Linked DNA regions of Homo sapiens: region 2 is linked to region 1. Evidence: fine-mapped expression QTL. A gene starts in region 1. The other region holds a variant in brackets. All regions are shown on one strand. Distances are between the middles of the regions.

Region 1 (5,383 bases):
TACTGAGGGCTGATTGTACTGATACATGCTACAATACATACGAACCTTGAAAATATTATGCTAAGTGAAATACCACATATTACATGATTTCATTTATGTGAAATATCCAGAATAAGTAAATTTATAGAGACAGAAAGTAGAGTAGTGGTTTCCTTGTGCTGGAGACATCAGGAGAAATGGAGAGTGAATGGTAGTGAATACAGACTTTCTTCATACATATATATACATACATATATATATATATATATATATGTCCACACAGAAACTTGTACACTAATATTCATCACATTAGTCTATATATAATATACAGTTATATATATTGTTAGATATATTTATATATATATAAAACATTGGTCTATATATAGAGACTATATATATAGACTATATAAAGACTATATATAGACTATAGAGAGACTATATATATAGAGAGACTATATATAAATATATATATATATAGAGAGAGGGACAGACAGAGTCTCACTCTGTTACCTATACTGGATTGAGATGGCACAATCATAGCTTACTGCAGCCTCAAACTACTGGGCTCAAGTGATCCTCCCACCTCAGCCGCCAGAGTAGCTGGGACTACAGTCATGTACCACCATGCCTGGCTAAAAAAATTTTTTTTTTAATTTTGTAGAGTCGAGGTCTCACTACGTCGTTCAGGGTGGTCTCAAACTCTCAGCCTCAAGCAATGCTCCCATGTCAGCCCCCCAAAGTGCTGGGATTGTAGGCTTGAGCCATCATGCTGAGCCTGAGACAGTTTCTTTTGGGGGTGAAGAATATGTTCTGGAATTAGATAGTGGTGATTGTTGCACAATTCTGTGTATATACTAAAAAACACTAAATTGTATACTTTAAAATGGTGGATTTTATGGTATGTTAATCATATCTTAATAAAGCTGTTATTAAAAAGGAGAAAGAAGAGAAGAAAGAGAAAAGGGGAAGAGGAAAAATAACTGGATCCTAAAGATAAGCTGTTAGCAGTGAAATTACCCGGTAAGGGGCTGGGCGTGGTGACTCACACCTGTAATCCCAGCACTTTGGGAGGCCAAAGCGGGTGGATCACTTGAGCTCAGGAGTTCGAGACCAGCCTGGGCAACATAGTGAAAATTTTTTTCTATAAAATTTTTAAAAATTATTTGGTAAATTCTTATATTTTTATGTATGTTGTCAGATGGGCCCAAATAAAATTAGTACTAATTCAAAATCCCACCAAGATTTTGACTAATGGTCAAAAACCCCACCTACATAGGAACAAAGCTTTATTTTTATTTATTCTCCCATATACTCCCATAACCCCATCCATCCAGAAACAATCATCACTAAAACCTTGGTGTAAATTCTTCCACTCCTTTTCCTTTCCTCTTCTATTTCTAGACATTTAAAATGCTTGAATGTATATATTTCAAACATAAGAACCATCATATTGTACACAAACTTCAGATCTCTTTTTTCTCTTAATGTGGTCTATGGACACATTATAGATCAGAGTCTTTTTTTTTTTTTTTTATGAGACGGAGTCTTGCTCTGTCACCCAGGCTGGAGTGCAGTGGCATGATCGCAGCTAACTGCAACCTCCACCTCTCGGGTTCAAGCGATTCTCCTGCCTCAGCCTCCCGAGTAGCTGGGACTACAGGCACGCATCACCACACCTGGCTAATTTTTGTATTTTTAGTAGAGATGGGGTTTCACCATGTTGGCCAGGCTGGTCTCGAACTCCTGACCTCGTGATCCACCCACCTTGGCCTCCCAAAGTGCTGGGATTACAGGCGTGAGCCACCGCCCCCAGCCATCATTTTTTTTTAAGTTGCAAAAAAGAGTGTTCCATTTTATGGATTTACCGTAAGAAATAATGAAAATTCATGTTGTAGTTTACAATTATGTAAGTGCACATATTTATACATATATCTTTGGACACTTTTATGCTTATTTCCAAAACATAAACTCTTAGCAGTAAATTACTCAGTAAAATTCTATACACTTTTGATATTTTTATGGACATTGTCAGATGAGCCAAATAAAATTAGAACTAATTTAAAATCCCCTCCAAGAGCATTAGAGTACATTTTTCTCTGAACTGGGGCCAACAGATATAAACACTTTGAAAAATTTTGAAAGAGGCCTCTTAAGAGAAGAACTTCTCTGTTTTGGTGAATAAATCTGGTTCAATTTTCTTACCTTCAGCCTCCGCCATTGTCAGCTCCGCCAAACAGGAGAGAATTAAGAGGGTCAATGGCATGAGCCTTCTTACAAGCTCCATTTTGGCAAGGCGCTGGGCAGCCTTAAGGACCGACAGCTTTTATAGGCTCTGTGTTACATCAGCTTTCTGGACACCTCCAGGGAAACGTCAGTTCCAGCCACGCAAGGGGTAGATTTGTGTGAGAATAGAGCAGCTGTGTGACTGGTTTATCAGCATTCCCCACAGTGAGGGTTCTCTCTCCCCAACTCCTTCCTGGAAGGGTTGCCCCCAGTGGAAGCTCTCTGTAGGGATCTCCAGCAGCTGGTTCCCAGCAGGCACTGAGTTATTTTCCATGAAACTGATGGGGAGCTGTGCCTTTCTTCTGTGCCTGCACATCACAAACAGGTGGCCTCATTGACATCATTGAAGTCTTCAGGGCTCTGCTTTGAGAAGGGAGCCTGTGGGAGAACAAAGGCCTGTGGGGCAAGGCAGGGGGTGCAGCACCTGGGCAAAATCTGGGTCCAGCTGGGACATTCAGATGCCCTGCCAGGTGGCTGACCCTGTGGGGGAGGGGAAGAGGGTAGAGGATGAAGAGAAAAAGAGTGCAGATCCAGATTCCCCCACAGCGATTTCTAACCAGTTATGTCTGGAGAGACTGAAGCAGGTGAATTAGTCTCTCGGGCACGGTGTTTTGCAGTTGAGAGAAAGAAATCCTAGTGTCCACATTGAGATTGGGAGGAGCAAGTGGTGGTGGGTGGGGGCTGCCCTCTTTTCATTCATTCAGTCAGTAAACATTACTTATTGATCTAGGGCCTAAGCAATATAGAATTGAATGTGAGAGACACAGTCCTGCCCTCATGAAACTTGTATTCTAAGTGGAGAGTTAAACAACAAAAATAAATGAAGAATTCAACTGGTGAGAGGAGCTAAGGATACAATAAACAGGATGACTGCATAGATGGTGGTTGCCTTGGGGTGGGGAGGAAATATGACAGTGAGAAGGAGGGCATCTTGAGAGATGAAATCTGAACAAAGGCAGAAAGACAAGAGGGAGGCATTCATGGGTGATCTGAGCTTGGGGGCTGCATCTTAGGCAAAAGAGAGGGCAAGTGCACAGGCCCCGAGGCAGAGACCAGGTGGGCACACCTACAATAGTAGGGAATAAAGAACAGCCTGGCTGGTCATGAGTGGGAGGAGTGAGCTGGGAGGGGAGGATGGAGAGGAGCAGGTGAAGGTCAGATGGGGAAGGACCCATAGGGCAAATGAGTCTGGTTTTCACTCTAAGTTCAGGTGGAACATATTGAGTGGACAATGCCAGGACTGGCTACTTTCTGAAGAACCTTTGTGCAGCTCTGGGGAGGTCTGACGCTCGTGTAGGCTAAGTCTCCTAGGGTGAAACCCTCTGGCTACCGTCAGCCCCTCTGTGTTGTTCTGACTGTGCTGCAGCCCAGGAGGCCTCCCTAGGGAGAGCACAGTCCTACGTTGTGACCCAGGGGATCCATTCCTCGTTGGACCCTTGCAGGGGAAAGGCAGCACCTGGGATGCTCAGGAGGAGCTTGGACATACCCCAAGGCCCCTGCCTTGCTCTGCTCCATTCCTATCTGCCCGGGCTGGCTGTGGATGAGGCAGGACTGGGTGTCCTGGGGTGAGTTAGCAGGCCACAGGTGTTTGAGATGGGGGACCCTTCTGGTTACTAAGCGCTTGCAGCTGTGTCCATGGATACCCACTCCCACCCTGGGCTTTCCCTCTGAACCCCTCTTTGTCACCCATGGCTGGGATCTCCAACATCCCTAATCCATCTCCACTGAGTGCGAGAGTTTCATGGCCACACTCTGTTAGGTGGCCCTGGCAAAGGACCCAGGCTTCCAGATCCAGTCAGGAGAGAAGCCCCCTTCAGGCCTCTGGCAACTTCCTGGGGACCACGGGGTGCTGTGGGGTCACCCTGCATCATCTCATTGCTTCTTCTCTGTCACCTGTGCAAGTCCGCACTTCACATCAAGGACACAGAGGCTCAGATGAGTCAAGGGACTTCCCCTGGTGAAGGCCGAATTGGGATGGGAACCGGCTCCATAGGGCTCTAAAGCCCATGTGCGGTGCTCTGTCCTCCTGCTAATGGGGGTGTCCTGAAGACCTTTGTCCCACCTCCCTCACGGCCCCCGCAATACCTGCACCAGGTATAGTCACCCACATGGGGAGGCCCTGGCACAGGCGTCCTGGATCCAGGCACTGGGCCACCCACTGGGTGGGGTAAGAGGGGATTTGTATGTGCTCCATCTGTCAGAGCTGGCTGGTGACAAGAGAAAATCAAAGGCAGGGGACAGAGACAGTGCCCGGAAACTTAAGGGGGACAGGTGACCTCCAGCTGGAGGCTGCCCTGACTTGGCCTCTTCCCAAGCATGCTGGGGCTGGAGGCTCAGCCTCCAGGAGGTGCTCGGCGTCTACAGGCAGCTCCTCCACCCACATCTGGCCTGTTTCTGTGCCTAGCTGTCACAGCTGTTTCCTTCATTTGCGACTTCTGTTTTCCTTTTTACCCCCTTTTAGTAGATTACCACCTGTTACTAGCTAATAATTCTTTACATTCAGTATACATGTGATGGTCACAAGCAAGGGTTTAGTTCATGAGAGGAGTGGACATGGCGGTTACAGATAGGGAATCATGCTTAGAAAGGGGTTCCAGGAGGCTCAGGGGCAGGAGCTGGAACAGAAGGCAGCTGGGAGTAAAGTGGGGAGGAGTGCTTCCTGCCACCTGCTGTTGTGGTCAGGGAGTCTGGGCTTTGGCCTTTGGCTGGTGGTTCGTGTTACAGTTGAAGATGTTGATGGCTGGATCAACACACATCACTGTTACCGTAATCCACGCAGGAGCCACATGCTCTGGAGATTTGGGGATTGCAGTAGGAAGAAACTGGTTTTCAAAAGGTCCTTTTGAGGTCACTGAGCTCAGGCCTATCTTACACAGGTCAGACAACTTTAACACAGGGAGGTCCTGCCTGGCTCCTCTCACTGTCTTGGATAAATGGACAGGACAACAGGACAGGTATCAGGACATGACACCATTTTCTGCGGTGGATGTCAACCATCCAAGCCCTCACGAGAGCTAAACGAGCGACTCCAGCTGGACAAGATCAGCTGGGCTGAAATTGGAAGTGTCCTAAGAACAGTGTGCATTTTCCTTCTCGGGTGGGAGATGTGCTGGACACTTTT
Region 2 (5,383 bases), 46 kb after region 1:
GAATGGCTGAGTATTTAGTATGTTCCCCATTCTTTACATAGATATAGCGTGCTGAAATATTGCACTAGGCTAGAATTCAGGACTCAGTCAGAGACCTGGCTTAACTATTTTGCCTTACTGGTTAAATCTTTTGATTTTTTTTTTCAATGTGTAAAGTTAGATATTTGTATTGGTTGAGATTTGTTTAAGGTTTCCAACAGTGTTAAAGTTTTAAGAATTTAATTTATTTAAATAAAGGTGGTTCTTAGGATATAGAAAGATAACATTAGTGTTCAATAATTGGCGGTCTACATCAATGATAATTACTTGTTATATGAGATGGCATAGTCTTCAATTGTTGATAGTCTGTATCAATGATAACTAGTTGTTATGTGTAATGGCAAAAAAAAAATCAAAAGACTATACAGTATACAGGGATTCAAAAACTGCTTGGGACACTTCTGGGTCCAGCTGAGATAGAACATTGCCATTCCTCTCAGATCCTCATTTTACAAATAAAAATCCTTGGACATAGCACAACGAAGAAACATACAAGGACTGTTAAAGGTAGAAAGAAGTCAGACTCTTAGGGACTGTGGGATTTGAGGAGCAATGCAATGTTGAGTTTTTCTGCCTTCCATATATCTTGGATGGGGTGCCAAAGAAGTCTGCAACCTGGGACAACCAGTGGGGACAAAAATTAAGAGCTTCAAGAAAAGCCTATTCCTTCTAACCAAAGGACCAGGAAAAGGGAGTCCTAACAAAACAAAACCTTTCAATAATACTTGTCTACTCCAGTCAAACACCAATGGAAATACTGCCCTCCTGCCTGCCCTGTTGAATGAGGCAGTTGTACTCTGGTTTCTCTACTGGGGTGGTATCAGCAAGCTAAATGGTGAGCTGTTCTTCCATCTCTCAGTCAGAAGAAGTGGGCAGCATTCCAATTCTGCTACTGGGTGGTATCAACAGAGCCGAGTAGAAGCTAAACTTCCAGCCCCTGCTCAGCTGAAACAAGCAGTACTTCAGTTCTACCAGGGTGATGTCACCACTGCCCCACAAAATCAGACGATACTTTAATTTTCTAGCTGGGGTGTTATAAGGAGAGGAAGGGAGAGTTTGGAGCTGAAAAAATATCTGAAGAAATAATGGTTGAAGTTTCCCCAAAGCTGAAATGGGGAAAGGCGTGAACTCACAGATTCAAGAAGCTGAGTAAGTCCTACACAGGATAAATTCAAATACGTCTATGCCAAGTCATATCATAATTTTTTGAAAATGAAAAAATAAAAAATAAATTCTAAAAGAAAGCTGGAGAGAAACAACATATTCTCATAGAGAAATACCAAGTTTGTTGACAGCTGATTTCTCATCTGAAATTATGGTGGCCAATAAGAAGAGGCACATTTTTCAAGTGCTGTAAAAGAACTGTGAGTCACAAATTGTATATCCAGCAAAAATATCCGTTAGGAACAAACAGCAAGTAAAGACAGTCTCAAATAAATGAAAACAGATTATTTTGCACTGGCAGGCCTACCCTTAAAGAATGGATAAAGCAAGTTATCCAAGGAAATGATGACAAAAGAATGCTTAGAACTTCAGAAAGGAAGAAAGATCAATGGAATGGATAAAAACAGAGGTAAATATGACAGGCTATCCTTCTCATAAGTCTCTTAAATCATATTTGATGGTTGAAGTAAAAGTTATAACACCATATGATGTGGTACTTAATATATGTAGAGGAAGTATCTAAGATAATTATATTTTAATAATTACTATAAATATAAATGGCTAGATTCACCAATTAAAAGAAATGTATAGAATGGGTTATAAAATACAACCCAACTATATGCAGTTGACAAAACACACTTTTCAAATATAATGACGTAGGTAGGTCAAAAGTAGGAAGATATGCCATGAAAACATTAATTTTTTAAAAAGCAGAAGTCGTATATTAGTATCAGGTGAAGCAGGCTTCAGAGCAAAGAAATTCACTAGATAAAAAGAGGGACATTACATAATAATAAAAAGACAATGACATAGTGATCCTAAATGGGTATGCAGTAAACAGAGGTTCAAACTACATGAAGCAGAAAACTGATAGATACAAAAGGATCAATGGACATAACCATAATTATAGTTGAATACCTAACACCCCACGCTCAGTTATTGATAGAACTGTTAGACAAAATTATAGGAAAGATATAGAACTGAATAGCACACTATCAGTCATCAGGATCTATTTGACATTTGTAAAACACTCCATTTCAGCCATTTCGAAAGTTAATGTAATCTACCATTTCAGCGGACTAGAAGAAAATTCATATGACTATATAAATTAACACAGAAAAGTATTTTTAAAATTCTAACACCAATCTATGATGAAAGAAACTCAGAAAACTAGAAATTGAGAGGAGCTGCCTCAACTTCATAAAGGATATCTACAAGAAACCTATAGCTAACATAATACTTAATGGTGAAAGACTGAATGCGTCCCTCCTAAGTGAAAAATAAGGCAAGGATGTCCTTTCCCACCACTGGGTTTATTTTGTTTTTGTTTTTGTTTTTGTTTTTTTTTTGAGACAGAGTCTTGCTCTGTCGCCCAGGCTGGAGTGCGATGGCATGATCTCGGCTCACTGCAAGCTCTGCCTCCTGGGTTCATGCCATTTTCCTGCCTCAGTCTCCTGAGTAGCTGGGACTACAGGTGCCCGCCACCATGCCTGGCTA[A/AT]TTTTTTTGTATTTTTAGTAGAGACAGGGTTTCACCATGTTAGGCAGGATGGTCTTGATCTCCTGACCTCGTGATCCACCTGCCTCAGCCTCCCAAATTGCTGGAATTACAGTCATGAGCCACCGTACCCAGCCGTCACCACTCTTACTCAACATAGTACTGGAAGTTATAGCCACTGCAGTAAGACAACAAAAATTAAATATAGATTGCAATGAAAGAAAACTGTCCTTATTTACAGATGACAAGATGGTCTATGTAGAATATCCCAAGGAATATTTTTTTAAAAAAGGTTTAGAACTGATAAATGAGTTCAGCAAAAGTCACAGGATGAAAGATCAAAATTAGTTGCTTATCTATATTCAGTTGGCCCTCCATATCCATGGCTTTTGCATCATGGATTAAACCCACTGTGGATCAGAAATAGAGAAAAAATAATTGTGTCTGTGCTGAACATGTAGACTTTTTTCCTGTCCTTATTGTCTAAGTAATACAGTATAACAAGTATTTACATAGAATTTACTTTTATTAAGTATTGTCATCTTATATAAGGGACTTAAGCATCTGCAGATTTTGGTATCCACAAGGGTGGGTTTGGGGAGGGAGGTCCTGGAACCAGTCTCCCACAAATACTGAGGCTTAACTGTACAAATGATGATGTGTGGAAACCAAAATTAAAAACAATTTCTTTTTATAACTCACCTGTCAACAATGAATTATTAAATTAAATGTTGGCTTCCTAGTAGAAAATTGTAAGAATAAAAGTAAGCTTTTCAACTTAAAAGAGACACACTCACTATACTATTTATAGTTGCTCCAAAGAAAACTAAATACTTAGGTATGAATCTAACAAAACATGTACAGGATATATATGCTGAAAATTGTAAAATGCTGATGAAAGAAATCGGAGAAGATCTAATTGAGGGACATACCCTGTTTATGGCTTGGTGACTCAACATAGTAAAATTGTTAGTTCTCCCTATTGATATGCAGGCTTAATGTAATTTGTATCAAAATCCCACCAAGACTTTTTGTAGACAAAAACAAGGCTTTTTAAAATTATATGAGAAGGCAAAAGTAGTAGAATGGCTAAAACAACTTGTTTTTCTTTTTTCTTTTCTTTTTTTTTTTTTTTTTGAGATGGAGTCTTGCTCTGTCACCCAGACTGGAGTGCAATGGTGCAATCTCGGCTTCCTGCAACCTCCACCTCCTGGGTTCAAGCAATTCTCATGCCTTAGCCTCCCGAGTAGCTGGGACTATAGGCGCCCGCCACAACGCCTGACTATTTTTTGCATTTTTTGTAGAGATGGGGTTTCACCATGTTGGCCAGGCTGGTCTTGAATTCCTGGCCTCAAGTAATCCGCCTGCCTTGGCCTCCCAAAGTACTGGGATTAAACGCTCAGCCTAAAACAACTTTCAAAAAAAGAATTAAATGATTGGGAATCACTCTTCCCAGTGTAGAGTATCCAATACTGTTTAGTATTATGTGGGGATTGAAATATAAATCAATGGAACATAATAGAGGGCCAGAAATAGACCCTCACAAATATGCTCAATTGATTTTTGATAAAGGTGCAAAACTGGCCAGGGGTGGTGGCTCACACCTATAATCCCAGCACTTTGGGAGGCCAAGGCGGGCAGATCACTTGAGCCTAGCATTTCAAGACTACTCTGGGCAACATGGCAAAGCCCTGTCTCTACAAAAAAATATGAAAATTAGCCAGGCATGGCGGCGCATGCCTGTAGTCCCAGCTATTTGGGAAGCTGAGGTGGGAGGATCACTTGAGCCCAAGAAGTCGAGGCTGTGGTGAGCTGAGATCGTACCACTGCCCTTCAGCCTCAGCAACAGAGTGAGAGTCTGTTACAAAAAAAAGGAGTGGGGGGGTGGTGCAGAAAGGATAGCACTTTCCAAAAATGGTGCTAGAGCAATTAGATATCCAAATTCTTTCACCTAAACTTCACATCCAACACAAAAATTAACTCAACATGGGTCATAGATTTAAATGATCTTTTGGATGGAAACTGGAGAAAATCTTTAGCAACTAAGAATTGCAGAAAAGTACTTAAACATGACACCAAAAGTACAATCGATAAAATAAAATTAATAAATTTGACTTCATTAAAGATAAAAAATTCTGCCCTCTGACTCAGTTAAGAGGATGAAAATACAAGCTACAGATGGGAGAATATATTATTTGCAAACCTAGGTATGACAGATGACTCATACCTAGGATATATTAAGAACTCTCAAAACTCAACAGTTAAAAAAAAATCAATTTAGAACATGGGCGAGACAGGAGATATTTCACCAAAGAGAATATGCAAACAGCATATGAACATGAAAAGATATTCAACATTACTATCCATTAGGAAATTCAAAATAAGACCGTGATGAGATATCGCAGCACACCTATTTGAACAGCTAAAATAAAAGCTCAGGTGGCAGGACAAGTGGCAGTGTGCAGGCAGTCCAGCAGCCCAGCTTCATGAAGGCTCATGGTGCACTTCAGCCCTCAGGCACCAGAGGAAGCTCAGCCCAGCTGAAGGGGCAGTGAAGGAAGGGCCCAAGAGGAGGCCCATGAGGTTGTCAGATAAACCTGCTCCAGCAAAAGTGAAAACAAAACCAAAAGAGGCAGCAAGGAAGAATCATCCTCAGACAAAAAAAGTGCAAATAAAAGGGAAAAGG

What was found. PIP is the estimated chance that this variant, and not a neighbour inherited with it, causes the effect.
Region 2: its variant is the best candidate, but not a certain one, in a credible set for the expression of CUZD1 in whole blood (TOPMed, PIP 0.89).

Annotation. Positions count from the first base shown.
Region 1 is chr10:122,843,581-122,848,963 of GRCh38, forward strand. It overlaps CUZD1 (CUB and zona pellucida like domains 1), which reads right to left and starts at 2,277. Exons shown (of 9, transcript NM_022034.6): 1 at 2,182-2,277. The coding sequence starts at 2,263. It overlaps FAM24B-CUZD1 (FAM24B-CUZD1 readthrough), which reads right to left. Exons shown (of 11, transcript NR_037915.1): 3 at 2,182-2,640. RefSeq lists enhancers at 2,065-2,566, 2,567-3,066, 3,133-4,014.
Region 2 is chr10:122,889,242-122,894,624 of GRCh38, forward strand. It overlaps the pseudogene C10orf88B. Among named protein-coding and RNA genes, the nearest start is that of FAM24B-CUZD1, 12 kb to the left of the region's middle. The variant A/AT (reference allele first, on the strand shown) is at 2,701.